Linked DNA regions of Homo sapiens: all the other regions are linked to region 1. The links come from fine-mapping of genetic effects on gene expression. A gene starts in region 1. Each other region holds a variant in brackets. All regions are shown on one strand. Distances are from middle to middle. Region 1 holds the start of OGFRL1 (opioid growth factor receptor like 1). Region 2 overlaps LOC124901339 (a long non-coding RNA gene). Region 3 holds the start of LOC124901338 (a long non-coding RNA gene). Region 4 holds the start of LOC124901339 (a long non-coding RNA gene). Region 5 has its middle 71 kb from the start of OGFRL1. Region 6 overlaps LOC124901339 (a long non-coding RNA gene).

Region 1 (4,958 bases):
AATTGACACATTTTTCAAAAGGTGGTGTAAAAGGGAAGGATTTAATTGCAGTAGTTACTTAAATGTTTATATGCACAAACACAGATACTTCTCACCATTCCATCATCTACTGATGTATAACAAACTACTACAAAATTTAGTGACCTAAAGCAACAGCCATTTTATTGCATTTCACTCTTCTGTGGGTCAGAAATCTGAGCAGGGCTTTGCTGGGTAGTCCCTTTATTCCAAGTAGGGTCGATGGAGGTCACTGAAAGGTATTCAGATGGTGGATGGGTTGGTCTGGAGGATTCAATAAAAAAAAAAAAACAAAAACGTGGAATCCAGCAGGGGATACTGGAAGGTAGGCCTCAGCTGGTACCATGACCAGAGGATGACCAGAGGCCACACACAAGTGGCCTTTCTAGGAGTATGGCAGTCTCAAGCTAGCTGAACTTTTTACATGGCAGCATGGGGCTAACAGAGAGAATATTCCAAGAGACCCAGTGGAAAATGCAAGGTTCCTTATGGCTTAACTTAGAAAATCCTGGACTATCACTTCTTTCATATTCTATAGTTAAGCAAGTCACTGAGGCCAGCTCCTTCAAGAGTAAGGAATAAGACTACTTCTCAATGGGAAGAGAGCAAAGAACATGTGGCCAACTTTAATCTACATACACCTAAACCAACAGATGGAGCGCCTGGGACACAACAACTATCCTTAGACTTTCCACATCAACAATCTCGGAACACTTAAGGCTGGATGGACAATATCTACTTCTGCAATGTGTTCCGGTCTTCTACCAACGGAAAATCGAATTCCCAGCTTTGAGCAGTTGGATTCCTGTGGTATGTGGCTGCCCCACATCTTCTTCTGCTAAGCCATTATAATCAAAAAGTATTTTTTTTGGCGGGGGGTGGGGGCAATGGAGTCTCACTCTGTCGCCCAGGCTGGAGTGCAGTGGCCTGATCTCAGCTCACTGCAACCTCCACCTCCCGCGTTCAAGTGATTCTCGTGCCTCAGCCTCCCAAGTAGCTGGGATTACAGGCGCCCGCCACCAAGCCAGGCTAATTTTTATATTTTTTTGTGGAGATGAGGTTTCGTCATGTTGGCCAGGCTGGTCTTGAACATCTGACCTCAGGTGATCTGCCCGCCTCGGCCTCCCAAAGTTCTGGGATTACAGGCGTGAGCCACCGCACCCGGCCCCAAAAGTCTTTTTGTGCACCCCGTGTCTATTTCTTATTAGTTTCAGAGCTTTTCCCAGTCATAGGATCACAGAAGGTCAGAGCTGGAAGGGCTCCCAGAGATCTGGTTTCATTTTACAAATGAGGAAGTTTAGGTTCATGTGACCTACTTAAAGTCAGAAACTGATTAGTGACAGAGCTACAGCCTAGATGTCTTGTTGCAGTGCATGAAGAGCTTAGGTAATCCTGATTTATCCATGGAATAGGCAGCTGGTTTACCTGATTCTTCCCTTAGAAACAGTCCATCTAACATGATTTGGCTTCCTACTTCATCATGAAACATTTGAAAAGAAACTATTCATTCCAAGTTCAACAGTTTAATCTTCAAATATCTAGCTCATCTTTCTTAGTCCATATTTAACAAATGTTTACTGAGCATCCACCAAGTTGACAGCACTGTAAATACAGACACACTTTCAGACGGGGGCTGCCTGCAAAGAGGCTTCCCTTCTAGTTAGAAAGCCAGAAGACACATTTTACAACAGTCACTTTTCTCTGGGTCACATATTTGATAATACTACCTTATCTTTACGTACTTCTATAGGCTTATGCCTGTAATCCCAGCTATTGGGAGGCTGAGGCAGGAGAATTGCTTGAAACCAGGAGGCGGAGGTTGCAGTGAGCCGAGATCGCGCCTCTGCACTGCAGCCTGGGCAACAGAGGGAGACTCTGTCTCAAAAAGAAAGAAAAGAAAGAACAGAACAACAGAACAGAACAGAACAGAACAGAACAGAACAGAACAGAACAGAACAGAACAGAACAGAAAAAAGAAAGAACTTCCCTAACACAGTTCTCCCTCCTCCTTTCATTTGCAGAACAGACCACAGGGCCGAGGCTTCTTCCATTAGAAACAGCCCATCTGTTCTACTGATTCTGAGATTTTTGCCTACACGGAGCACCAATTTGTAGTGGGTGTAAGGTTACCCGCAAATCAATGTGATGGTCCAGTTGTTACTGTTCCTTTTGTTTCACGAGCGATTGCTCATTAGATGAGGTGACTGATAGCTCTGACTTTTTCTAGACCACAAGGACTCTAGGTGGCTGCCCTAAGTACAGTTGTGGCAGCTGGGATTTCCTGTTTATATGGTGCCCGGCACCATCAGCTTTTGTCCTCTGCTGCAGCTAAAGTGTCTTCCTCCTGGACCAGGGAGAGGGGGAGGGGGTGTGGACAGGACCCGCCTGCTGACGGTGACACCTCTTCGACACCACGTCCACGCCAGTCCTCAGCTCCAGGAGCTGGGCGGGATCCCTCATCCCGCTCAGCTGGGAGATGCCCCGGGAGGGCGTCCCCCGGCTCCGGGCGGCGAGGGTAGTAGCCGACCCCAATCCACTCCGGGGGCCGCCGGGGGCCGCGTGAAGGCAGGTGTTCCGGGGAGAAACGTGGAAGGGAGGCGCGGCCTGGGGCCGGTGGCGCTCGGCTGGGGGCCGCAGTTGGCTCCCCTGGGGGCTCTGGGCGGCGGCAGCTCCCGCCTGTGGGGAGGAGAAGGAGCCGGATGGGCGGGTTCAGGCGCGCGCGGCGGCGGTCCCGGGGCCGCCGGCTCCTCCCCGCGAGGGTGCCTGTCCGCCGCTCGCCGCGCTGAGGCAGTGCGGGGCGGGCGCGCCTAGGCTGCCGCCCAGCGCCCTCGCCGCGGCCATGCCCGGGCCCTAGAGCGCCTGCCGCAGCTTGCGCCCCGCAGCCCCGCAGCCCCGCGCCCGCCGCCGCCTCTTCAATGGGCAACCTGCTCGGCGGGGTCAGCTTCCGCGAGCCCACCACCGTGGAGGACTGCGACTCCACCTGGCAGACCGACTCGGAGCCCGAGCCCGAAGAACCAGGGCCGGGCGGCGGCAGCGAGGGCCCGGGGCAGGAGTCCGAGCAGCCCGCGCAGCCCCCGGAGCAAGCCGGCGGGCGGCCCGGCGCCAGCCCCGCGCCGGACGAGGACGCCGAGGCGGCGGGCGCCGAGCAGGTACGCGGCCCAGCGGTGGCCTCGGGTCGGGCTGGGGCGCCCCGACACCCCAGAGGGGCAAGTGCCAAGCCGCCCTCGCGCTCGGAGGCCAGGGGCGCCAGGTGGCTGCTCGCCGCTGCGACCCGACCCCTCCGCGCCGCGGCTGACCTGTCTCCCGGTGGAGCCCGGGGGCCTGCAGGAGCCCAAAGCGCCGGACCCTCCCACTGCCGGCCTGGGGCCTGGCCGAGGGCACGGCGAGGAAGTCCCTCAAGGCAGAACCCAACTTGAATGGGTGTTTTCTTTGCCTCTGCAGAGCAGCTGGATTATGCGAAGGTGGGGTGGGAGGAACCTGTCTAAAAATAGAGGATTTTGACAACCCCTCTAGTGTGTGTTATTGGTAAAAAAAAAAAAAAAAAAAAAAAAAAAAAAAATTACTCAGAATAAGGTGGGGCTACAAGTGCAAGCAGCCAGCGCTCTCCCCTACAGTGGGGTCTAAGCCGTCAGAAGTGTAGGCCCTCATCTGAAGTTCATACGTCACTGTTCTGCCCAACTCAGGCCTTTCAACCTAGGATTCAGGGCATTCTTCACGAATCTTATTTCACCAGAAGACTTGTTGATCCAACTGTGTTTGAACTGTTTGACTAATACAGCTTGGAGGAGAGGTTAGTCAAGAGATAAGCCCCTTAACCTCTGATGGACTGAAAATAATCAGGAACTTTAAAAAGGAGGAAATATGTAGCCGACCCCCTGAAGAAGTGTGCATCCTGGAGGTGGTTCAGGTTTGCCGCTCCACATTAGGCCCTTCTCTTTATCAGCTAGGGGCGATGGAGATTGGGAAAATGGAGCCCAAAGTCCAATGTGACCACAGGGTTTTGGGGGAATCATAACCTAAATATTACAGCTAACACCGCCTCAGCCATCTTGATGATCAATTCTATTTAGGTAAGGAGGAAATCATAAAGTCTTAGTGCAGGCTCTGTGTTAAACGTGTTATTTAAATGAACTACAATTTTGGGGTGGGTGTTTGCTGTGTGGTCTCCATTTTAGAGAAAACTGAGGCTTAGAGAGAAAGGAAAACTTGCCCAAGATCACTGAGGGAGAGGATGATGCAAACCCAAGTCTATCTATCACTGATATCAGCGCCTTGGACCTGTGGAATTCTGAATTTCCATCTGCCCCTGTGTCTGGTTTGCCGCTGTTGTTTTGCATTGCTAATTCAATCTTATTAAATTATTAGATGCTGCATTCTCATGTTTTTCCCTTACGTTTGTCTCCCAATTAAGTAACCTCCTACAGAAATTTGGAATATCAAAAAACACCAGCTAAGATTCAATCCAACTAACCAGGTCCATCTATATAAAACATTTTAATAATGTTCAGTCAGTTAACTGCAACCCCAGTAACTAGTAGACTACACCAGCCCTCCCTATTCCCTTTTAATGATTAATTTTTCTTGTTAGTATCACCATCTGACTTCCCCAAAAAATCTGCTTTTCAATTTTGCCTTTTGACTGCCAACCCTATTTGTTGTCTATTCCTCAGAGTCAATCCACTTGCAGGTAATACTGGAGCTACTTTTAAAGCGTATCCCAGACTGACTCCTTCACACCACTTCCATTGCATCATCCTAGTCCCTCTGAATACTGAACAAATGATGGTGACATTAACCAAGACAGGGAAGTCTAGGGAGAATGCAGCTATGGAGGTTAAATCAACGATTCTCTTGAGTTTGATATCCTATTACACATCCAAGTAGAGTTGTTGGGTAGTTAATCATTTGTTGGGTAGTTAAATTACATCTATGAATGGAGA
Region 2 (4,958 bases), 38 kb before region 1:
AAAGAAACTAAAGCCTACACAGGTCACTGGGTGTCACTTTTGTCATGGCTTCTCACACTTCAGCAGACAGCAAGAGCTCATCTTCTTGGCTATTTCCCAAGAATACCATCTTGCTTACTTCTCCTTGCAGAAGGAGCATGTTCTCATTTTCACTGGCTCTTTGACTCACAGGCTGTACCAGTTAACTGTTGCATGCCTCAGGATGTTTCTGCCCTGGTGACTGGTTTAGCTATGCATTTCTGACTTTGACCTCTGACTTCACTGTTTGCTGTCTGCCTCCATCCAACCATTAAGGTCCTGAGAGCTACTTCCTGCCACCTCCCCCAACCCCTTAAGCCCATTTGAGCAAGGCTAGCTCTGTCTAGCCTCCCGCCAAGAGAGGGAGAGCCCAGCCCAGGAGCAATAAAGCCCAGATGATAATTCAAATGAAAGCACTTTTGGAAAATGTCATTCCAATGTTTTTGAAAATGACAACCATCACAAATTCTTGACTACTATCAGTTATTACTAGGCTGGTGACCTTGATAAAAAAAAAACACAATTATTATGAAGGCAGATCTGTGAATTTCTCTTACTTTTTAAAACTGAAGTAATAAATTCCCCAGGTATAGACTTCAAACAGCATCTGTTGACTTAATTAGAGGGGAAATGCTTCAAGGATGAATTCTTTTCCTACTCTGTTAACTTTTCAACAGATGATACATCTGAAACAATAGGCTGGGAGCAGGTGTGTGATGGCCTGAGTCTTAGCTTGCATTTGGCAAAACTCTGACTACTGAGTGAAGCCATTAGCGATGTTGTCAGTGAGATTGATGATGTTATGCATTTTGAAATTGTCCTTGACAAATTATATAAAATGTACAATTCTTCTCCAAAGACATATCATGAATTGTAGCAAAATGTAACACATATTACACCATTTCTCAGGGGTGAGGATTTTATTAGCTCAATGAGGCACACCCAGATTGAGTTGAAAAAGGTCTCTGAAATAATTCTACTATAATGTGTCATTGTAAGCAGTTCAGAGTCGACTGAGAAGAGCTGCTTGAATGAGCTGAGAGGGGGCTATTTAAACAACACCATGAACCTCTCCTATCATTAGATTCCTCCTTCCATATTAGATGGGGACCTGGTATGATGGAGGGGGTGGGTCTTGCAAAGACAGACTCCAAAGATGTGAGAAGACCATGGATAATAAACCTGAATCCAGTGTGCCAGTCAAATGTGTTGCCCTGAGCTTCTTAAACTAAATGCATTTGCCCTGTGCATAGGAAGAAACATCTGCATAGATGGATTGGGGCAAGTTCATCACCGCCAATAATTGATAATTTAAAATATTATCTTATGTTAGAACAGAGGTATTATGAGATACAATTTAAAAGTCATAAGATTTTTAAAAAGAAGAATAAGAATGTAAAGAAATCTATGTTTGCACTGGTTAGCCACCCTCCAGTTATGGGTACACATCTAGCTGCCTCTGACTTAAACATATTCATATGGACATGCTTATTTTGGATCAGAAAGTGGGTATCTAAGGATGGAGTCAGAATGGACAGGCAGAAGTACCACTTTAGGAAGCTTGAAGCATCTCCAGAGACCAAGGCTGAAATCCACACAAGGCTGAATAGATATGCTAGATCCCTTCATCATTCCCTCCCTGCTTCTCTTCTCTTCATAGAACTAAAGCACAGAATCATTGAGTTTCAAGATTCAGAGAGTTTTTTTTATAGAACCATCAAGTCTAATCTTATTATATGAAAATTGCACAAGAGTCTTAAGAAGTGGTTTTCAAGCATCTTTTGGCATACTTTCAATGACAGGAAACACACCATTTCGTAAGACAGCTCTTTCTACCTTTCAAGAATGTGAATTATTTAGGAAATGTGAGCTTGGTATGAGTACTCGTTTCTGAAGTCAAATTGTAAGAAGGAAAATTGGCCTTAGAAATCCACTTATCCTAACTTCTTATTCAGTGCTCTTTTCATGAATCTGTAGTAGATATTCTTGCTTCTAAAGTGGTCTAAAGAAAACTGGGTTGACAAAACTCTGAAAGGGAAGTCCTAACTCAAGCCAGGGGAAAAATAGCAAATGACATCACAGGAAGTTATGAAATCTAATTCAGTGGAGAAATATGCAGAGCTTTTGACCATCTCCTAAGACTGGGACAGGAAATTCTTACTCCACTTTTGGGTTGCAGGGCTTGTTTA[C/T]GAAGAATATTTCCTCCTTTGTTATTCCCTTTGGACCAGCTTGCAGATTACTCAAAGATACTCCATTGCCTCGGCCTGGGGGAAATAAAAATCTATTGTCCTATTAAATAAAATTAAAGGATGCACAAAAAAATATCATAATGATTCTAGAATTACTCTCAATTCTAGAGAGTCAACTACATGTCACTTTCAAAATCATCCTAGGGCATTATCTCAAAGTGATAAAAACATTTCACTTTTAATTAAGCAATTGATTCTTCTCCCTTGTCAAGTGCAGAACTTATGTAAAGATTTTATTGTACTCTATACATTCTTTTCACAATATCTACCACTTTAGTGTATCATCACTACTCCCATTTAATGCCCTATTAACTGAAATCTTGAAAAGGATATAGGGCATATGAAAGCCAACCTTATTTAGGGATCTATAGCTTGACATTCAGTTCCTGCTCATCAGCCCCTAAAGTGAAGTTTTATAGCAGATGTGCTCCATTTCAACAGAGTGCATGAAGTTCTCGGTCAAAACTCTTCTTACAGAGACCTAGAAGGAAAATAATCCTACTCATGCAACAGCAGAGGAAAGAAACCCTAGTGATCTACACCTTCTTTTTAAAACCTGGCTGGACAACAAAGGATAAAGAGAAATGTGAGAACTGTCAGCAGCATTCAAAAGAATAAGCAAGGTCAAAATACAGAAAAACTGATCTGAGAAACTAGAAATAATAATCTGAGCCACAAACTGTTCAAAGTTTACGTATAATAAGTTCAATCATTAGAACACCCTTATGAGGTAGGTACTATGTTACTTTATTTTACAGATGAAGGAACTAAGGTACAGCCTCTCCTGCCCCCAGGCTTAACCTCATGGTACAGGAAACCATCTGTAGGGTCTGTAGTTTCCCCATCTCCTCCCAGCCAAACCCCCGGTCATCTTGGCTTGAGTGGTTCCAGAGGCTCCACCAGGAAACATGGTTGCCCTCCTGACTGTCTTGGCACAGAATGTTGGTTGTTTTCATCCTTCAGGTAGAATTTAACCTTTTCAGCTTCAAACTGGAACCAGAGAGCTATTCAAACTAAGAAAACAAAGTTCATATGTACAGCAGTAAAAATTAAAAATCAAATTGTTAACATAGAGTCATCTCTACAACAACAACAACAACAAAACTTCAGAATTTGGCAGTGTGCTGAAAGAATTGGAAAATAAATTGATTATCAGCAGGAAAATAGAGCAAAAACCCAATAACAGTTGTTCAAAATATATAACAATGTAAAGTGACTTTAGCATCAGTTATAAAGTGTGACACCTACACCTGATTTTGTTGCAAAGCTCAGAGAAATGAACCTAAGCAATTAAAAATACAGTAAACAGTTTTAAGAAAGAACAGAGGTTGATTACATGAAAAGCTTAATAAAGACAAGAAAATAGCCAAAAATTAGTTGAATACTGTATCAAGGAAAATTGACATATGGGCTTTGGGTCACTAGAAACATGGAGAACTTTCAGAGGAATGTTAAGCAAAGTTCCTGTAGACAGAATACAACAAAGTAGTCTTCCAGGAGAAATGGTAGATTTTGCAAAATTCCTTCAGTAAACAGGAGGATGTCAAGGGTGCTGGATGATTGTGATCACCAGAACTTTGTAAAAATGAGAAACAAACATAAAAAGAAGACAAGATATATAGGGAAAGTTTTGCAACACCATCCTGGAAAAGCACAGGATAAAGTGCAACAGTATGAAAGATACATTAAAAATGTCTGACTCTAGAAGAGAGGAAAAAAAATCTATTCAAAATTGGAAAACTAAAAAACAGCAAACAGGGAGAATACTTTCAAGTTAAAGGGAAAGATGAAGGATAAGCCAGTCCTTCCTCAAAGTAAACAAGAATGTAATCACAAGCAAAAAGAGGAGCAAAAAAACCAAATTGGTGATTGAAGCTTAGAAAAAACAGAAAAATATTTAAGTGTCAATTAAATATGCTTATATTTTAAGGAAGCTAAAAGAGGAAGAAGAGAAAGAGACAAAGTGGCAAAAAAACCATCAATGTCAATGTAAACTAAAATTACTACCTGAAAGTAATACCCAGCAGAAGTAAAAACAGGAAGAATTTTTGAGGCTTGAAAAGGAAATAAAGGAAAAGGCAAAAAAAAAAAAAAAAAAAAAAAAAAGGAAATCTGTGGCTGATGAAATCTCCAGGTTTCAAGAAAGAGACTGATATAAACTTGAATTGAAAATTATAGATGGACAGGCAAAGGAAGGTGAAAAGACAGAATAACAAAAAGACTATCACAATTAAAAGATTGAAAATCATCAATATGAGATCCCTGCAGGCTTTCTAAGTTTACCAAAGGTTGGAAAGAATTAGACCGAAAATATTAGACCAACAAGTTCTGGGTCATTTCTACATGACCCACACAGGGAGGGCTATTGCTATCTGGAGACGAGTAAAGAGAAAGATATGAGATAATGAAATTGGTATTTACGCGAGGAGAATGTTAACATATTCAATTATTCTGGCAGATATAGTGACTAATTGTGTCCTTTAAATATCACTAAACTAGTCAGATTGATTATTAATTGTGCTGTAATGTGAATTGACAGTTCCATGCTGGCATCGTCATCAGTATTTCCTGTTTACGCTGAAGAGGTATTTAATGCATGTGTTGGTTTATTACCAACATAAAAGTTACTTAAATAAGTTTATTTACATACACTTAAATGTTCATTTAAATGCTCAGAACATTTTGAAAGTA
Region 3 (4,958 bases), 55 kb before region 1:
AAAAAAACCTTTTATACTGCATTTTTACTATCCCCTTTCTAAGTTTCGATAGGTTTAGATATGCAAATATTTACCATTATGTTACAATTGCCTACAGTATTTGGTTCATTAGCATGCTGTACAGGTTTGTAGCTTAGGAGCTAGGCTATATGATATGGCCTAGGTGTGTATTAGGTTATACCATCAGGTTTGTGTAAGTACACTATTCCCACAGTAAAGAGATCAATCTAAGGATGCATTTCTCAGAATGTATCCCTGTCATTAAGCAATGCATGACTATATTCTCTCACATTTAAGAATATCTATTTGTGGTATTTATACTTGAGTGGAATCTTAGTGGAATACAATATTTTTGGATCACATTTCTTTTCCTTTAGAACTTGGTAGACATTGCTTTATCATCCTGTAACCCAGAATGTTACTCCAGAGAAGATTGAGTCCAGTCTGCTTTGCTCCCAAATATAAGAGGCTTATTATTTGTCTCTGGATGGCTAAATAATTTTTTCTTATTCTTAAATTCAGTAACAACAGAATATGACTTAGGAAAAATAGGGTTGAATATGTTTGTCTTGGAATATGATATGCACTTTTGAGTTGCAGAGTGTCTTATTCTTGCATTACAGGATTATTTTTCTATTTTCTATTGGAATACTTTTTCTGAGTCATTTACTGGTTTTTCAATTCAGAGATACCTATTATCTTTATATAATGGCATATTTGTCACTTCTCTCTAGCTATTATCTTCTCTCTATTTCTACTAATCTGTTCATCTTTTTCCGTTGATTTTACTGTGCTTATCTCAAGCCTTTTCTTTGTAGAGCAATTTATTTTTCAGCCATGTCCATTAAATTTCTTTCTGCATGTAATTTGTTTATAAGTTCTGTAATGGTGTTATTTTAGTTTCAATTTGTTTCCTTATATTGTCAATTTCCATTTTTACATCATTCTGTATTGTTATCATCTTACATTTGAGCTTGTATTTTATTCATTTCATGTACTTAATAAGATTTTCTATAGCATGAATATTTCTCTGTGTTCTTTGTTGCTATAGAGTTCCTTTCATTCTTATTTTTTGTTCTGCTTACCTAGTTCTCATGTCATCCTTTTTTCATCTTGTTCATATTTTCAGTGAGCTCTGCATCTGAACTCTGTTTTTTGTTCTGGTATAGATTGAGTGAATTCCCCTTAGGTCCCTTCCCATATTAACTGAATGTGAGGGTATTTCTCTACAAGATGTAGCTTGAGAGCTTGTAATTGATTTATACTCACTTCTAAGTAGCCTGAGGGTTTAGGTGTGTATGTCTTGGAAGATAGGCAGGAGTAGGGAGAGAGCTAAGCTAGGGCTAGGTACAACCAAGTATTTCAAATATTCTATATTCTTCTAGCTTTTTCTATTTGACCTGTTTTTTCTTCTTTTTCTTTTTTATTTTTGACCTTTTTTCTTATTGAAGTGTTTAACGTATCCTACTATAGTTCTGGATTTGTCAGTTTTTGTAATCCTATCAGTTTTCTCTGCCTAGTGCGATGTTATGTTTAAGTGCATACAAGTTAAAGATTATTTTATTGGCTTGGGGATTGTTCTGTATTATTTTATAATGCACCTGAGATGGTTTGCTGTGTCCTCATCCAAATCTCACCTTGGATTGTAGTTCCCATAATCCCCACCTGTTGTGGGAGGGACCTGGTGGGAGGTAATTGAATCATGGGGCGGTTTCCCCCATGCTGCTGTTCTCATGATAGTGAGTTCTCAAGAGATCTGATGGTTTTATAAGGGGTTTTCCCTCTTTGCTGGGCGCTTCCTTCTGCTGCCGCCATGTGAAGAAGGATGTTTTTGCTTCCCCTCCCACCATAATTGTAAGTTTCCTGAGGCTTCCCCAGCTATGCAAAACTATGAGTCAATTAAACTTCTTTTCTTTATAAATTACCCAATCTTGGGTATGTCTTTATTAGTAGCATGAGAATGGACTAACACGTCATCTTACTATAAATAATAAAATAGGTTTAATAAAAGAGGTTTAATAAAAACCTCTTAGTTTTTCAAAACTTTATGTTCAAAATTTTCTTTTGGTTTGGTGTTAGGTGTGCCTTTTATTAACCAGGATACAGCAGGATTTATGTTATTATTATCCCATCTCTGCCTTTTAATAGGTGAATTTTATCCACATTGACTCTGATACATTACACTTTTGGGCTTATTTGTACCATTTCCTTTTGTGCTATCTACTTACCTTTCACTTT[C/G]TTTGCTTTTTTGCTGTGTTCTGTTGGATTGACAAAGGATTCTGCATTTTTCTTTTTCTTCCTTTTTTTCAACTCCTCTACTTTCTCCTTCTTTTCCTCCAAATCATTCTATTCTTCCTCCTTCTTTTGATTCCTCTGGAGGTTTGAAAAATATCAAGATTATTTCTATTTCTATATTGGTAACCCTAAGATTATGCCTTATTTTTCTATTTCATGTATAGCAAATACATACAGATGAGCACACTTATATGCAGAAATGTTGATTTTAATATATTTTCACAAAGTAAATACATCTGTGTGACTATAACTCAGATTAAGACATAGAACATTGCCAATACCCTGAATCGCCCTCAGTATCTCCCTTCTCTTCTTAAGGTTAACCATATCTGTCTTCTTTACCATAGATTAGCTTTGTCTGTTTTGAACTTTTCATAAATGGGATATGACATGAACTCTGCATCTGGCTGCTATTGCTCATTCTTATGTTATTAGACTCATCTATGTTATTGATTATATTGATGATTAATTTACTTTTATTATTATGAAGTATCCCATTGAACGAATGCACCACAATTTATTTATCCATTCTACTCTTGCTGGACATTTGGATTGTTTCTAGTGTTTGGGGATTACAAATAATGCTGTTTTAAACATTCTCTAATTTCATTTCATTCTTTGTACCTGCCTTTCATTGACATTTCATTTACAACTCTGTTGGGTATATACCTAGGAGTGAAATACTGGCATTACTGGGTTGTAGGCTATGCTTATGTTTAGTTTTAGTAGTTACTGCCAAATAGTTTTCTGAAGAGGTTGTACCAATTTATATTCCCATGTGTAGTGCATAAAAGCTCCAGTTGCTGCATATCCTCAATATATGGTAATACCTGTTTCTCTAGATTTTACCTATTCTGATGAGTGTGTAGCTGCATGCACACAATTTTTAATTCATTCATTACTAATGATTTTGAGCACTTTATATGGCTATCACCCATTTATGTATTGTATTTCATGTATTACCTGTTCAATATCCAAGTTTATTCCAATTTTTTAATGGATTGTCTGTCTTTTATATGGCTTCACAGAAACATTTAATATGTTTTGGATAATAATCTTTTGTCAGGTAAAAATATTGAAAGTATCTTTTCCAGTTGGTGGTCTTCTCTTCCACTATTTGTGTTAGTCTATTCTCATGCTGCTGTGAAGAAATACATGAGACTGGGCAATTTACAAAGAAAAGAGGTTTAATTGATTCACAGTTCTGCATGGCTGGGGAGGACTCAGGAAACTTACAATCATGGCAGAAGGCATCTCTTCACAGGGTGACAGGAGAGAGAATGAGTGCAAGCAGGGGAAATGCCAGACACTTATAAAACCATCAGATCTCACGAGAACTCTCACTATCACAAGAACAGCATGGAGGAAACCACCCCCATGATCCAATGACTCCCTACCGGGTCCCTCCCATGATACATGGAGATTATGGGATCTCCAATTAAAGATGAGATTTGGGTGGGGACACAGCCAAACCATATGACTATTTTACTGGGGTTTTTGATGAACAGAGGTTCTTAATTTTAATTATGTCCCTTTAATCACTATTTTTCTTTAAAAAAATTTGCCCATCTTAAGGTCATAAAGATATTCTCTCTTATCTTCTTGATGTTTAATTGTTACTTTTCAGGTAGGCATATACCTCCAACCCTGAATTGATTTTTGTGTGTCATGTGAGGTAGGATGTCAAAATGTGTTTTTTCCTCATATAGATAACCAGTTGACCCAAAATCATTATTAAAAATACCATTCTTTTTTCATTTGCATTATGCTTTATCATGAAACAAATTGTCACAAATGTTTCTATTCTTTTCCATATTTCTATTTGTCTATTTTTATGCTAATGCAAAACTGTCTTAAATATCATCACTTTGCAATACATCTTGATAACCCTTAGAGGGATTTTGTCCTTCTTCAAAATTGTCTTCTCTGGTCTTGGTCCTTTACATTTCCATATATAGATATATTCAATTGTTAATTTCCAATAAAAATATTTTTAAGCTTTTAACATACAAAGCTGTGAATTATATATTAATTATAACTATAATTTTAAAAATATCTGAAATTATCTAGTATTTTTATCCTACTCAGAAACCCAAGAACCTAAACAGGAATATATTATAGATTGAGAATCTATTTTCCAGCACCTTGTTTGTGTTGCTAAGTTATTTGGATATAATATTCTAAATTTCCAGTTTCCCATCATTATATTGAATTTATTTCTCTATTGTTTCATGGCATCTATGGTTGCTAATGAGAAGCCCACTTGATTTATTGTTTAATTACCATTTCTTGTTGTAACCTGTTTTTCTCCTTGTAGCTGGTAAAAACATGTCCAAATTCTTGATGTATTCCAGTTTTACTTTGGTAAGTCTGGGTATGAATATATTTTTGTAGATCCTTCTTGGTTTTTATAGTTCATTTTCAATTTGAGGACATATTTTTCTTCAATTTTGGAAAACTCACAGCTCTTTTCTCTCCAAATATTACTTTCTTGTGACTTTTTCCTTCCTTAAAGAAAAATAGGCAGTCCTATTTGTCTTCAGACTATCCTATATAGTTTTAGGTGACCATACAACTATTGCCTAATAAATTATATTTATATAATTATGTTTATATAACCAGAGCCCCACCTAGCCTCTGTTTTCAAACCTGGCTCCAGTCTG
Region 4 (4,958 bases), 46 kb after region 1:
ACAATGATAACCTTCCCACACTTTATGTGGCTTCTCTGACCCTGATTCTACTCATCATATCTTCTCACACTCTACCCTTGTGCTACGCTGTCTGTGTCCTGTTTTTCCACTTCCACATTTCTCAGGGAAGCATTGGCCCAACAGGGCAGTTAGGGTGTTTTGGTTGCAAACAATAGAAAATAAGTCTATTATATTCTATTACAAGTGAATTCATTAAAAACTCAGATTACCAGAACCTGTTTGGAATTTATGGGACCTAAGAATTTCCACTAAGTCTTAGAAGCAAGACCTGATGGATGCCCCATGTATGTTATGAGCCCTGGAATGTCCTTTTTCCTTTCTGCCTTGGCATAACATGGCCTAAAGTTCAAGCCCTGGAAAAGTGTGTCTGATTGGCCAAGTATAAGTGATGTACCAGCCCTTAGTTATGCCAGGTAATAACAGAGAAATTAGTTGAAATTAGTTGAAGAAATTAGTTAAAATTAGTGAATCCAGTGATGCCTGGATTTACTTTCCCAACAAGATTGAACATAATCGGGGAGCTAATTACCTAGAAGGCTAATAGGATGCTAGAAGGAAGTGGGTGATAAATGTTGTGTAGACAAAATACGGAAACTGTGTTCCATTCCTCTTCATCTTTTAGTTTATCACAGCACATGACTCATCATTTGCTGATGAGACTATAAGTGGGCTGTTGTTTAAAGTTGTGGCCAGCCTTAATGCATTTCAAAGTAAAATAGAAATGACCTTCCAATTATCTGCTACTTTGAATTATTTATGATGCCACTTCCTTCTGTTTGCACATCCTACATCTGATCATGGAAAATGATTATCAGATAAAACTTTGGCATCTTCTTTCTTTATTTACAAACACTTCTTCAGCATTGGTCTTTTATTTACTACTGTGGCAGGTGTTGTGGGAGATAGGGGAGCACTGCATAAGATGTGATTATCGTTTTCTAGGTGCTTGGAACTGAACATAGGAAACAATAGAAAATAGTATGGATAAAAGAATATAAAACAGTACATAATTAAAGACAAAAATTTCATCTATGTGTATAGTGGAGGTTGAGTATAACTTATGTTAATGTGTGAGGAGCTAGGCGAAATGTGTAATTTAAATCTTGAAAGGATACAGTTGATCTGGGAAAGATAAATTTGTGGTGTGGTAGCTAGTTGATCTATGTCCAGACTATGTTCATCTAAATTACAATTTTTGCTATTCACTTGTTCCAAAAGGTAGGATAGAAGTTTATTTAGAGTCTATGTCTCTTCTTCAGTGTGCTGCTTATAAAGATTTTGTACCAGGGTCATTCTCCTTGGCCATCATCCTATGTAGCCTCACAGGAAGGTGTCACAGTTCTGCTATTTCTAAATGTCACAGGCCCAGCCCACCTGTCTACTGCCATCTTTCTACTGTGAATGTCATGAAACGCCTCTGGGAGCATAAATAACTTTATTACTAAGCTGTAAAGTAGAGCAAGTTATTAATATTGTATGAATTGCATTCAATTCACTTTTTACCTCTAATAGGGTGAGATCTCACTATATTCTGGAAAGTATATCCTTCAAACTGCTGAGTAGCATGTATTGAATTAACTGAATTAGGAAGCCCCATTGCTGCTGGAAATTTGGACTGCAAGCTTGTTTTAATAAGTTCAAGTTTACTTCTGAGATCATCATTTTCTTTAGGAATTCAATTCAATAAGGCTGCCTAACTCTGACAGTAAGTACGAGAAATTAGATTTTATTGTGAAGTATAAACAGGCCTGCAATTGATGATATAAGACTCTAAACATCATCAAGAGGCTTGTGGACTGCTTTGCTATGGGAAGTAATTGACACTGAAAGCTTTTGGAAACTGAAGTTTATAGCACTGGGCCCAAATCAATGATATTTTATTTTATTTTATTTGAGGTATTTGAATAGGGCATTAGTTGGCATGTTCTAATACCATGTGATGAAGCCCAAGTTTGGGCAAAGTATTAACCTCCTCTACAACAAACAGAAGTTAGACAAGGTTTTAAAATTACCACCAGATCTTTGAGGAACAGAGGAAGAAAGTGTTCTAGAGATACCACAAACTGAGCTTCATTTGATGTGGGTTTATTTCTCGTGGGCCACTAATAATCACATGTTAAATTTTCTCCTCCATATTTAAAGATTGAGAGTCCATCCTACCCTTTATTATAAGTTGATTAAAAAACAAGACTCTCTAAAAAACTCAAAATACTGGGTTCTAGTCCTGGATTTTCCACCAGGTCACAAGATTCTTAGCCTTTATGTGTCCAGTGACAAGAAACATGACTCGTAACCTCGGTTTGCACAATCTTCTCTCAGGAACTTCCCAGGGAATGTGCAATTTCTGGCTCACAAGCAGGGAATAAGCTGATTCATTCTTCTGCTCAAGAATGAATCTTGGAATGCAAATGAGCATGTTATAGGAATAATCAAAATGTGATCTAATTTCTGAAAAAAAGTAATAATTTTCAACTGTTACTCTTTTATTATGAGTAACAAACTACTTGTGACATATTTTCAAGCCATGGTGACCTACTGTGAACACCTGGCTGGGAACTGCCACATTTGCAGTCTGGCTGACCATGAATGAACCAGTTAATTCCTCTGTTCTTCACACTCCTTAC[A/G]TGTAGGCATCTTCCAGTTCTGAATTTCTACAAGTACTGTCACCCAGCAGTAACCAATCCACGTGGGGCTACTCTCTATATATTTGTATCATGAGAACATAAGAAATTGCCTTGCTTGTTAAGTCTTACAGTTCCTTTAACACCAAATTCTGAATTTGACAATGGCACAGGAATATGATTTGGAGTATGTAATTATTTTCACTGGCATTCAAATAAAGGTTTATGGCTACTCCCTTGAAAATATTCACATGTTCTTCAAGGTCCATGTTGGATCTGTCAACTATTAACACATAATGAATGCAATAATATTATGATACAAATATTAGTGTGATGTAAATACAAAATATATATCTGCAATCCTTTCCAGCCCTTGGGGCACTAGCCTGTAAGTTCCAGGAGAACCCGGACTGTCTGATTTGTTCACTGTTCCATCCTCAGAGCCTGGCACAGAAGAGATGTCCAGTAATATTACATCCAGTAATATTTTTGGGTCAATTAAAAGATTCCATAGTAATTCCTTAATATGTAAGGTAGAGGTTTTAAAATTATTATTACCCGGTCTTGTTTGTTTACACATGAAACAAACCCAGCTTTAAAGAACTCAAATAAAAAGGAAAAGATGCTGTTTGTGTGATTAATTCTAGAACAAAAGGTGTGTGCCTGGTCTTGGGAGCAACTCTCAGGGGTCCAAATCAGCAGGCTTTCTGTCTCCATCTCTCATACCTCATTTACCCCAGTGTCCTCCATAAGGTGACTCATAGTCACAGGTAGCATGTCAGTCACATTTCAGTTTCCCCATCAGAGAGGGGTTTCCTCCTTTCCTTAGTTTCAGTTTGACTCTGTTATTTTTACTCACTCTTAGCAGCAAAGGTTAGGAGACAGGGTAAAGTTCAGTAGAAGGCCTTTTGTCAAGGATTTGCTAGTTCATGTTTAAACATGGGTTAAAGAAGGTTAAAAGGGATATTTCTTAAACATTTTTATTATACCTTTAATTGATTTGCCAATCTTGTGATGTAAAGCCAGGATCTTTTTTTTAAATTATTAAACTGACACTGTTGTTTGGAGCTACAGCTTGTTCTTCTTGATAAAAACTGACCCATCCATGCATCATACTTTTCAACTGTGACTTCTTTAAAATGGAGCAAAGATTTAATGATACTTGCAATATATCTGAGTGAAGAATCCATCTGGATGTTTAAAAATTTCCCTTCAATTGTGTATAATGGTATTTCCCATAATTAATTTGTCAGGATATTTTTGTTTGTTTTGTGATTTCCTTTATCAAGTTTTCCCAAAGCTTTCAGAATACATTTCACAGAAATAAAACTTTCATTTTTGCTGTGCTCATTTTATGTTTGTTTAATATTTAATGAGATTACTTGCTTATCATAACTAGTAAAACTGTTATAAAGATGTGAGAACAAATGCAATAGACTTTTGATTACTATGCAACTCAAAAGGGGCAATTGAAGTATGCAGACATTCTGAGAGATGCTGCCTAGCCACAGTGCTCAGTGGGTCCTGGATACCTGCTGGTCTTTTTAGCAGGTGAATGAAAAGCATCTGTTGTTCTGGTGATTCACATCTAACAAAGGTAACACTGAGCAGTGTATGGGAGGGACAGATAGGCACACATACAGACACACAATGCATAATGGGGTGGTTTGCAATAAAGATATGTACTGTGAGAGAAAAGCAATTCTGCCCAAGGGTAGGATGTAAGTTGGAGCTACTTCTTTAAGAACAGCAAAGAAAAGAAAGAAAACAGCAAATACCAAAGCAGGGATGTATAAAAGAATATTACAGAGCTTGTCAGAGAGCCAAATCATGAAAGAACTCTCATTCACAATTGCTACAAAAAGAATAAAATACCTAGGAATACAGCTAACAAGGAAAGTGAAGGACCTCTTCAAGGAGGACTACAAACCACTGCTCAAGGAAATCATAGATGACACAAACAAACGGAAAAGCATTCCATGCTCATGAACAGGAAGTATCAATATCATGAAAATGTCCATACTGCCCAAAGTAATGTGTAGATTCAATGCTATTCCCATTAAACTACCCATTGACATTCTTGACAGAATTAGAAAAAACTATTTTTAAATTCACATGGAACCATAAAAAAGCCTGAATATCCAGGACAATCCTAAGCAAAAAGAACAAAGCTGGAGGGATCACACTACCCAACTTCAAACTATACTACCAGGCTACAGTAACCAAAACAGCATGGTACTGGTACAAAAACTGACATATAGACCAATGGAACAGAATAGAGAACTCAGAAATGAGACCAGAGGCCTACAATCATAT
Region 5 (4,958 bases), 70 kb before region 1:
CTGAGCAATACTAATCAACAAATCTGCTTCCAAGTGTATACCTAGAACAGAAACTCTATTACATATACAACAGACATGTACAAGAACATGTATAGCATCATTGTTTGTAAGAACAAACTATTGGAAATAAACACCCATCATAAGCAAAACTGATAAAGAAAAATTGTGTATAATCACAACAGACTACTATGTAGCAATGAAAATTAATACAAGGGTCAACATGGACGAATCTCATAATGTTAAGGAAAGAAACAAAATCAAGGAAAAAATATACATCATGATAATAGTTATATCAAGTTTAAATATTTCCACAAATATATTAACTAAATTGCTAAATACAAAATTTAGCCAAAAATTATTAAATATAAAATTCACAGTAGTAGTTATTGGTTGGGGAGAAGTGGGCGTGTTCATAACAGGCCTTAAGTAGATTGGTAATATTTTGTTTCTTAATATGGGTGGTGGGTATATGGGTATCTATTATACTATAAACTTTTATATGTATTAAGTATTCTATGATTAATAAAAATATTAAGAAGCATGGGTAGAAAAACATGAATATAGTCACTGAGTTTCTTAAAAGTGCTGGATACTATGCTAGACACTGGAAAGGAATATAATGCTGAATGAGAAAGACATAGTTCTTAGCTTTACAGACCTTGGAATCTATCTGGGAAAACAGACATTGAACAAAGAGTTGCCACCATTCCAGATGTCTTGCTATTTCCCAAACACATGATTTTTTAACGAATTATTCTTTTTTCTATACCCTGCCTGTACTTCTCTTGACCCTTCTTCTGCTGTGCAGGTCTCTGTGACTGTGCAATTTTCCCTGATGACCCCTGCAGGATTGATCTTGCCTTCTTTCTGATATCGCTGTGCCTTTCCTTTTAATCTCTAGATGCAGTAATCAGTTTTCCTTTCTGTCTCTGCCAACTATCTGTGAGCTCCTTGAAAATAAGGACCACTTACTGTCTATCCACCATCATGGCACATGGTAGGTAACATATATATGTTTAATAGCTGTGTTGACATGTAAAAAGTGAAGTACTAAGGCACTTATATGGATAACACAAGTTTCAAATAAAAGCACAATACAGAAGTCCTTTGCCTCAAAAAGTCAGATACTGTTGAACAAAAACTTATTTTAACATAGCAAATATAAATACAATTGTAGTCACCACTAAAGGTGATTTTTTACTTGCAACAAGAAATAACTTACTTTAGCCCATTCTCTTTTTGGAGTTTTCTTTGTCAAAATATTGACTTTCCCTTGTGTATAGAACTCCATTTATATGCCATCAAAATAAGTAGGTTAATGGGGAATTCAGGAAATTTTGATTAAAACATTATCATTCAAGGACTTTTTTTTCTACCTTTGATTTATGCAGAATTTTGTTTATTATTGGCCACTTTGCTTGGAAAAAATACTTTTTTATATAAGTATGTCCATAAGAAAAACACTAATTTTTTTTAGTTAGCATTTTTCTCCTCACATTGATACATTGTGAGGCTTCTCTGACTTGCTTTATATGTATAAGGATTGATAACTTCTTATAGCAATAATTTTTTTTACTGTAAATTTGGTTACTACTTCAGATAATGTGCTACCTTAGTGTAGCATAACTTTTTTCCCAAACTACTTCCAAGGATTAAGTCTTACTAAATACAATTTTCAGAAAAATCTTTTAATAATTATCCTGGGGCATCTGTGATTAAAAAGACCCCCATATGTTATTATTAAATTCACTTGTATGCAGAAGCAACTTGAAATTGAGATGACAGTTTTGCTATTACATGAATTTGGCCAGAACATACTATAATAACTATATTCTCTGCTGCCCTGTCACTAAAAATTTTTTCAAGATTTTCTACACCAAAGAATTTCTAATCACATACACATTTAAGAAAGTACTACATTAGAACAAATACCTAATGCATGTTTTTTACAATCATAAAAACACAGATGAATTTAGTTTTCCATTATCCTGCCAGTGACTGGAACCTGGCTTTTGCCCTGAGACTTGATCTCACAAAGACATATCCTCTTCCTATTTCCAGGACTTCTGTGGCTTTTATTAGACCACCCCATCAACACAGAGAGAAGACAGCCATTTGCTACATATAATTCAAAAGAATTTCTTCAAGACTTTTTTGAGGTAATATCAGAAAGTTTCCTTGATCTCTGCATTAAAAGAAAATTGGATCTTAAAGTTAACTCTACAGAAATGCACCCTTTGGAGTATCACAAATAAAACAGGTTTTCTGCCTGGGGACAGTTGTCTATTGCCCTAGCAGGTTGCACTTACTATACTATGGAAAATGAAACACTACTACATTTATCTGTCTGAAAAATTGCCCCAAGAAGGATGTTTACTATCTCCAC[T/C]ATTATTTCATGTTGAATTGGGAGTGTTGGACATTGTATTCAGATAAGACAAAACAAACAGGGGCACAAGAATGGGGAAAAATAAAGGAATAAAACTATGTCTATTTGCTACTGATGAGATAATATTCTTGGGAAACCTGAGATAGTCAGTAATAAAATGAACATATACATAAATTTGGTAAGGATACAATTTTATTATATGAAAATCAATAATCTCATATATACAAACAATAACCAGTTAGAAGACATAATGGAAGAAAAACCCCATTTACAACAACAAAAATATAAAATAGGAATAAACTTAAAAAGAAATGTGAAAAATCTACAAGGGAAACTTTAAATACACCTGAAAAGGGACAAAAGCAGATTTTAATTAAAAGAAATTCTTGTGTGTGTGTGTTTGTGTGTGTGTGTGTATGTGTGTGTGTGTTTTGAGATGATGTTTCACTCTGTCACCCAGGATGGAGGACAGTGGCAAGATCATGGCTCACTGCAGCCTCAAACTCCTGGGCTCAAACAGTCCTCTTGCCTGAGCCGCCGTTGGGACTACAGGCATGTGTGACCACAGGCACGTGCAACCCTGCCTGGCTAATTTTTTGAATTTTTTTTGAGAGACAGGGTCTCACTTTGTTGCCCAGGCTGGTCTTGAACTCCTGTGCTCAGGCAATCCTCCTACCTTCTCCTAAAGTCCTGGAGATTACAGGCATGAGCCAGTGTTTCCGGCTGAAATTCTTTATTCTTACATAGAATGACTCAACATAAAAAAGTTAATTCTCCCCAAGTGAATATATAAATTAAATGTGATCTAACAAAAATCCAACAAGTTTTATTTCTAGAGCTGTATAAGTTGATTCTAAGGTTCATATTGTAAAATAAACAAAAAAGTAGCTAGGAAAATTTATTCTGAATAACGTTTTACCAATTACCAAAGTTATACAAACTTCTGTACTTAAAATAGAGGGTACAGGTGCATACAGAGACACATTAGTAAAAAAAAAAGTATTATAGCAATTTCAGAAAGAGAAACAAGCACATATAAAAATGTAATATATGATAAAGATGGTGTCTCAAATCACTGAGCAAACACAGGCTTTTTTTGTTTTTATTTTACTTTAAGTTCTGGGATACATGTGCAGAACGTGCAGGTTTGCTACACAGGTAGACATGTGCCATAGCGGTTTGCTGCACCTATCAACCCATCATCTAGGTTTTAAGCCCTGCATGCATTAGGTATTTGTTCTAATGCTCTCCCTCCCCTTGCCCCCAACCCCCCAACAGGCCCTGGCGTGTGATGTTCCCCTCCCTGTGTCCATGTGTTCTCATTGTTCAAAAACACAGGCTTTTTAATAAATTATGTTAGAACAACTGGAAAATCACCCTTACTTTACATCATAGACGAGAGCAAACTCTAAATGGGGCAGACATCTAATGTCAAATATGAAACAATATGCTATGGTTTGAATATGTCACTTCCAAAACTCAGGTGTTGCCAATGTGATAGCATTAAGTGAGGCCTTTAAGAGAATATTAGACCATGAGGGCATTTCTTTTAACAATGGGATTAAGGCTTTATAAAAGAGGCTTTGCACAGCATTTGGCTTACTTGCCCTTTCATTTCTTCCACCATGTGAGGATACAGCACATCTCCCCTTTGGAGGATGCACCAACACAGTGCCATCATGGAAGGAGAGATAGGGCCCCTTATCAGACACCAAGACTGCTGGGACCTTGATCTTGGACTCTCAGCCTCCAGAACTGTAAGAAATAAACTTTTTGTTCTTTATAAATTACCCAGTCTCAGGTATTTTGTTCTAGCAGCACACACTGACTAAGATACCACACAAGGACTGGAAGAGAACTGGTGAAGTTTTTTAGTAAGCTATGGATAAGTTATGACTCAAGTTCCAGATACAATAAAAGACTGATACACTCAAGTACATTAACAAAAAAACAACAACCTCTGAATGACTTAAAACACCATAAACAAAGTCAAATGACAAATGGTAGATGGGGACAAAATATTGGCTATGTTTATCTGTCTCAAAAATTTCCCTAAAAAGGATGTGCACCATCTCCACTATCATTCCATGTTGCATTTATCATAGATAAACACAGGACTTGTAGCTCTAACATACAAAAATTTCTTAAATAGATTTTTCAAAATCTATTTAAGAAATGAGCAAAGGACACAACCAGTTCACAGAAAAAAGGCCCTCAAATATATAACAAGTTTTATAACTTCTTTCATAATAAGATAAATACAAATGGAAACTTCAATGAGATACCATTTCTCGCCTATTAGAATTAAAAAATTCAAAAGCTCGATAACACATTTTGTATACAGGGCTATGAAAAACAGGTTCCCAAATATTGTGGATGAGAACGCAAAATGCTACAGTCTCTATGCAGGGAAGTTGGCTTTATCTAACAAAATTACACATGTGTTTATCCTTGGCACAGCAGCAATTCCCACTTGTGGGAATTAACCTGAAGATACACTTGCTCGAATGTGAGGGAAAAAACTAACAACATATGCACAAGGTTATTCACTGAAACATTATTTGTAACAGCA
Region 6 (4,958 bases), 22 kb before region 1:
TGTTTGCAAAAGCCCTAAAGAAGGAAAGAGACTGCTGAGTTTAGGAACTGACTATAGGCTCATGACTGGGAACACAGTTGTATGCAGAGCTTTGAGGACAAAAACATAAAGGGACTTGATTTTATTCTGTACAATGGAGAGTCACTGAAGAATTTTCAAAAATTTAAACTGACACTTGATATAGATGTTAAAAACAATCATTCTAACTGCTTTATGAAGAAAGAGTTGAAATAAAGTGTGTAAAACAATGGATCAGTTCAGAAGCCTTTAGAAGTTTGGTGGGAGATGATGCTGGCTTAGACTATGACAGTGATGGGTTAACTGGAGGAGAATTGGAAGAGAGCTGGCACATACCTCCCTTGTGGGTTGGGGGCAAGTGAGGAGAGGGAAATGGCAAGGGGATCAGGAAGATGCCCAAGTTTCCCAGAGGAGAAGTTAAGGCTGGATATATACCTTCAAGGATGATCAGCATTTAGTTTTCATAGCCATGGGGACTAGATAATATTGAAGATACAGTAAAAGGGAAAATGTTGAGAGCCCAGCACTGAACCCTGAAGAGTATCTTTGGGCCTTCTACGGCCCTAAGGAGGAGTCTAGCTTGAAGATAACCGATTACCTCAAGGACATGTAATAATTCCTACATGTTCAGATTTGTGTCTAGATATCTCTAACATTAAATCCCATTCAGTACATTTACTGAGTATCTATACAATTTAAGAGACCATGGAAGGTGTTGTAAAAGATATAATCCAAACAAGCAAACTTTAAGAGTTTGATATCTGGAAATATGTACAAAAATCTAAGATATGTACAAAAGTGCAAGTCAAATCTGACAGATGCTATAAGAGAATTATAAAGCAAAATGGGAATCTACAGAAGTCAAAATGGAAGATTTAATGGATAAGGTTAGCATTGAGCTGGTCTTGAAAGAGGTGCATGAATTTTAATAAAAAAGAGATCACATGCATATATACATATGTGAGTGTGTGTGTATAAATAAATATATATATTTGCCCCATGCAGCACGTACTTACATTTATGTCTATATCTACATTAGTCTGTGTATATATATTTATGCGTTCAGAGTTCCAATCCAATTCTAGTTCAGCAACACAGTGTTGTTCTTTTTTTTTTTTTTTTTTTAATTGATCATTCTTGGGTGTTTCTCGCAGAGGGGGATTTGGCAGGGTCACAGGACAATAGTGGAGGGAAGGTCAGCAGATAAGTGAACAAAGGTCTCTGGTTTTCCTAGGCAGAGGACCCTGCGGCCTTCCGCAGTGTTTGTGTCCCTGGGTACTTGAGATTAGGGAGTGGTGATGACTCTTAACGAGCATGCTGCCTTCAAGCATCTGTTTAACAAAGCACATCTTGCACCACCCTTAATCCATTCAACCCTGAGTGGACACAGCACATGTTTCAGAGAGCACAAGGTTGGGGGTAAGGTCACAGATCAACAGGATCCCAAGGCAGAAGAATTTTTCTTAGTACAGAACAAAATGAAAAGTCTCCCATGTCTACCTCTTTCTACACAGACACGGCAACCATCCGATTTCTCAATCTTTTCCCCACCTTTCCCCCCTTTCTATTCCACAAAACCGCCATTGTCATCATGGCCCGTTCTCAATGAGCTGTTGAGTACACCTCCCAGACGGGGTGGTGGCCGGGCAGAGGGGCTCCTCACTTCCCAGTAGGGGCGGCTGGGCAGAGGCGCCCCTCACCTCCTGGATGGGGTGGCTGGCCGGGCGGGGGGCTGACCCCCCCGCCCCCCTCCTGGACGCGGCGGCTGGCCGGGCGGGGGGCTGACCTCCCCGCCTCCCTCCCGGATGGGGCGGCTGGCTGGGTGGGGGGCTGACCCCCCCACCTCCCTCCCGGATGGGGTGGCTGGCCGGGCAGAGGGGCTCCTCTCTTCCCAGTAGGGGCGGCCGGGCAGAGGCGCCCCTCACCTCCCAGATGGGGCGGCTGGCCAGGCGGGGGGCTAACCCCCCCACATCCTTCCCAGATGGGGCGGCTGGCCAGGCAGAGGGGCTCCTCACTTCCCAGTAGGGGCGGCCGGGCAGAGGCGCCCCTCACCTCCCGGACGGGGCGGCTGGCCGGGCGGGGGGCTGACCCCCCCACCTCCTTCCCGGACGGGGCGGCTGGCCGGGCAGAGGGACTCCTCACTTCCCAGTAGGAGCGGCCGGGCAGAGGCACCCCTCACCTCCCGGACGGGCAGGTGGCCGGGCAGGGGGATGATCCCCCCACCTCCCTCCCGGATGGAGCGGCTGGCTGGGCAGGGGGCTAACCCCCCCACCTCCCTTCCGGACGGGGTGGCTGGCCAGGCGGGGGGCTGACCCCCACCTCCCTCCCAGA[C/T]GGGGTGGCTGCCAGGCGGAGACGCTCCTCACTTCTCAGAGGGTGTGGCTGCCGGGCGGAGGGGCTCCTCACTTCTCAGACGGGGCAGTTGCCAGGCAGAGGGTCTCCTCACTTCTCAGACGGGGCGGCCGGGCAGAGACGCTCCTCACATCCCAGACGGGGCAGCAGGGCAGAGGCGCTCCCCACATCTCAGACAATGGGTGGCCTGGCAGAGACGCTCCTCACTTCCTAGATGGGATGGCGGCCGGGCAGAGACGCTCCTCACTTTCCAGACTGGGCAGCCAGGCAGAGAGGCTCCTCACATCCCAGACGATGGGCAGCCAGGCAGAGACGCTCCTCACTTCCCAGACGGGGTGGCGGCCGGGCAGAGGCTGCAATCTCGGCACTTTGCGGGGCCAAGGCAGGCAGCTGGGAAGTGGAGGTTGTAGCGAGCCGAGATCACGCCACTGCACTCCAGCCTGGGTACCATTGAGCACTGAGTGAACGCGACTCCGTCTGCCATCCCGGCACCTCGGGAGGCCGAGGCTGGCGGATCACTCGCGGTTAGGAGCTGGAGACCAGCCCGGCCAACACAGCGAAACCCCGTCTCCACCAAAAAAATACGAAAACCAGTCAGGCGTGGCGGCGCGCGCTTGCAATCGCAGGCACTCGGCAGGCTGAGGCAGGAGAATCAGGCAGGGAGGTTGCAGTGAGCCGAGATGGCAGCAGTACAGTCCAGCTTTGGCTCAGCATCAGGGGGAGACTGTGGGGAGAGGGAGACCGTGGGGAGGGGGAGAGGGAGAGGGAGAGGAGGGAGAGGGAGAGGAGGGAGAGGGAGAGGAGGGAGAGGGAGAGGAGGGAGAGGGAGAGGAGGGAGCCACAGTGTTGTTCTTTCTCAAATGTACAACTGGCTCTCACAGTTTAAAATAAAATTGCTTTTTTTTCAATGTTAGTATACACAAGTAGTTTCAGAATTGCTAACTCATACCCCTGTGAGAAACACATTTATTAAATAGCACATAGCAACTAGGTACAATAGTTTTTTTCTTTCATTTTAGTAGAATCCAATCAAAATACTGACTTCTAAAAGTTACTTAGGTTAGTTCTGTTCTCCATCTGTGTCAGTGTGGTAATGTCACTCATACGTTAGACTAGTAACATTTGATAGTTTGTATTCCATTTTGGGATACCCCCACATCTTAGTATATTTTTATTTAGTTTACATAGAGTAAAATCCACTCATTGAGTTGTATAATTCCTCAGATTTTGACAAATGCTTAGGGCCATGTATCCACTTGCACAGTCATGACACAAATCAATTCTCACCCCAAAAGTTCCCCAGTGCTGCTCCTTTGTAGACAACCACTACCCGCACCTGCAATCTTTGGCAACCACTCATCCGTGTTCTGTCACAATTTTGGTCTTTTCCAGGAAGGTACATACATGAAATAATATGGGTCTGTCTACTTTCACTTGGCAAAATATACTTGAGATTAATCGATATGCTTGCAAGCATCAATAGTTCATTCCTTTTTACTGCAGAGTAGCATTCCATTGTGTGGCTGTATCATGGTTTGTTTATCTGTTCACTGGTTGAAATACACCTGGGCCACACAGTTTGGGGTGATTATGAATAAAGTATGATAAACACTCATGTACAGGTTTTTGTGTGAACATAAGTTTTCACTTCTCTTGGGTGAATACATAGGAAGCTTTGAATTTTTTTCCCTCTTTGTGTTTCAGTTTGGGTGATTGCTATAAACTGATGCTCAAGTTCACTGATTCTTTGTTACATCTTCTGATGTGCCCATTGAAGGCATTCTTCACTTCTGTTGCTGTGATTTTCACTTTTTGCATTTCAGTTTGATTGATCCTTATAGTTTCCATTTCTCCTGAAATCACCCATCTGATCTGGCATGTTGTTCTCCTTTTCCACTAGAGCTATATCATATTACTCATAGTTATTTTCAATTTCCTGTCAGATAGTTCCAACATCTCTGTCATATCTGGGGTCTGGTTCTGTTGACTGCTTTATTTTTGACAGTGTGTTGTTGTTTTCTTTATCACTTTTTTGTATGACTTGTAATTTTTTGTTGAAAGCCAGACACCTTGTTAAGGACAGCAGAGATGAGGAAAATAGATTTTATGCCTGAAAATGCATACACCTGTCTGTCCTTCTGCTAGGATTCTAGAGTGTGAGTCTGCGTTAGGAGTTGGGCTGAGTTTAATTCTCTTCCTCCACTGTAGTGGTTACCCTTAGGGCACCACAAGCATCAAATTCCTTTAGTGACACTTTGTGGTTCAGTTGGGGGCTGGTTTGCCTGTAGTTTTTTCAATTCTGCTCCATCTTCAGCTTTAGATCTTCCCTTTGCACTGTACCTCAGAAATGGTCTGTGCCCACACTCTTGGGCCTCTTCCAGCAACATCCCACTGTGACTTGCTACTCCACTTGTGAGCCTGGTGATGGGGAGGAGGAGCTCTCTGTCCTATTAAGCCCTATCTTAGGCAGCAGTGTGTATGGGGATGTGGTCTTCTCATAGTCCTCTCTCTCCCTCAGCTGTAGTTTAGGGCCCTGTAGACGTTCTAGTGTGGCACCCAGGATGGGGTGACCAACCCCTCCCAGCTTGTCA

The links. PIP is the estimated chance that this variant, and not a neighbour inherited with it, causes the effect.
Region 2: its variant is fine-mapped to the expression of OGFRL1 in whole blood (TOPMed, PIP above 0.99).
Region 3: its variant is fine-mapped to the expression of OGFRL1 in whole blood (INTERVAL, PIP above 0.99).
Region 4: its variant is fine-mapped to the expression of OGFRL1 in skeletal muscle (FUSION, PIP 0.93).
Region 5: its variant is fine-mapped to the expression of OGFRL1 in whole blood (INTERVAL, PIP above 0.99).
Region 6: its variant is fine-mapped to the expression of OGFRL1 in thyroid (GTEx, PIP above 0.99).

The regions. Positions count from the first base shown.
Region 1 is chr6:71,286,004-71,290,961 of GRCh38, forward strand. It overlaps OGFRL1 (opioid growth factor receptor like 1), which reads left to right and starts at 2,808. Exons shown (of 7, transcript NM_024576.5): 1 at 2,808-3,167. The coding sequence starts at 2,934. All of the region lies in intron 3 of LOC124901339 (a long non-coding RNA gene), which reads right to left. RefSeq lists a silencer at 2,461-3,520.
Region 2 is chr6:71,248,365-71,253,322 of GRCh38, forward strand. LOC124901339 (a long non-coding RNA gene) reads right to left here. Exons shown (of 6, transcript XR_007059640.1): 6 at 2,994-3,280. It also overlaps the pseudogene LOC100132834. Among named protein-coding and RNA genes, the nearest start is that of OGFRL1, 38 kb to the right of the region's middle. RefSeq lists a silencer at 3,111-3,378. The variant C/T (reference allele first, on the strand shown) is at 2,208.
Region 3 is chr6:71,231,285-71,236,242 of GRCh38, forward strand. It overlaps LOC124901338 (a long non-coding RNA gene), which reads right to left and starts at 3,488. Exons shown (of 3, transcript XR_007059632.1): 1 at 3,259-3,488; 2 at 2,229-2,373. The variant C/G (reference allele first, on the strand shown) is at 2,239.
Region 4 is chr6:71,331,549-71,336,506 of GRCh38, forward strand. It overlaps LOC124901339 (a long non-coding RNA gene), which reads right to left and starts at 4,532. Exons shown (of 6, transcript XR_007059640.1): 1 at 1-4,532. The variant A/G (reference allele first, on the strand shown) is at 2,646.
Region 5 is chr6:71,215,709-71,220,666 of GRCh38, forward strand. No RefSeq gene overlaps it. Among named protein-coding and RNA genes, the nearest start is that of OGFRL1, 71 kb to the right of the region's middle. The variant T/C (reference allele first, on the strand shown) is at 2,387.
Region 6 is chr6:71,264,289-71,269,246 of GRCh38, forward strand. All of the region lies in intron 5 of LOC124901339 (a long non-coding RNA gene), which reads right to left. Among named protein-coding and RNA genes, the nearest start is that of OGFRL1, 22 kb to the right of the region's middle. The variant C/T (reference allele first, on the strand shown) is at 2,350.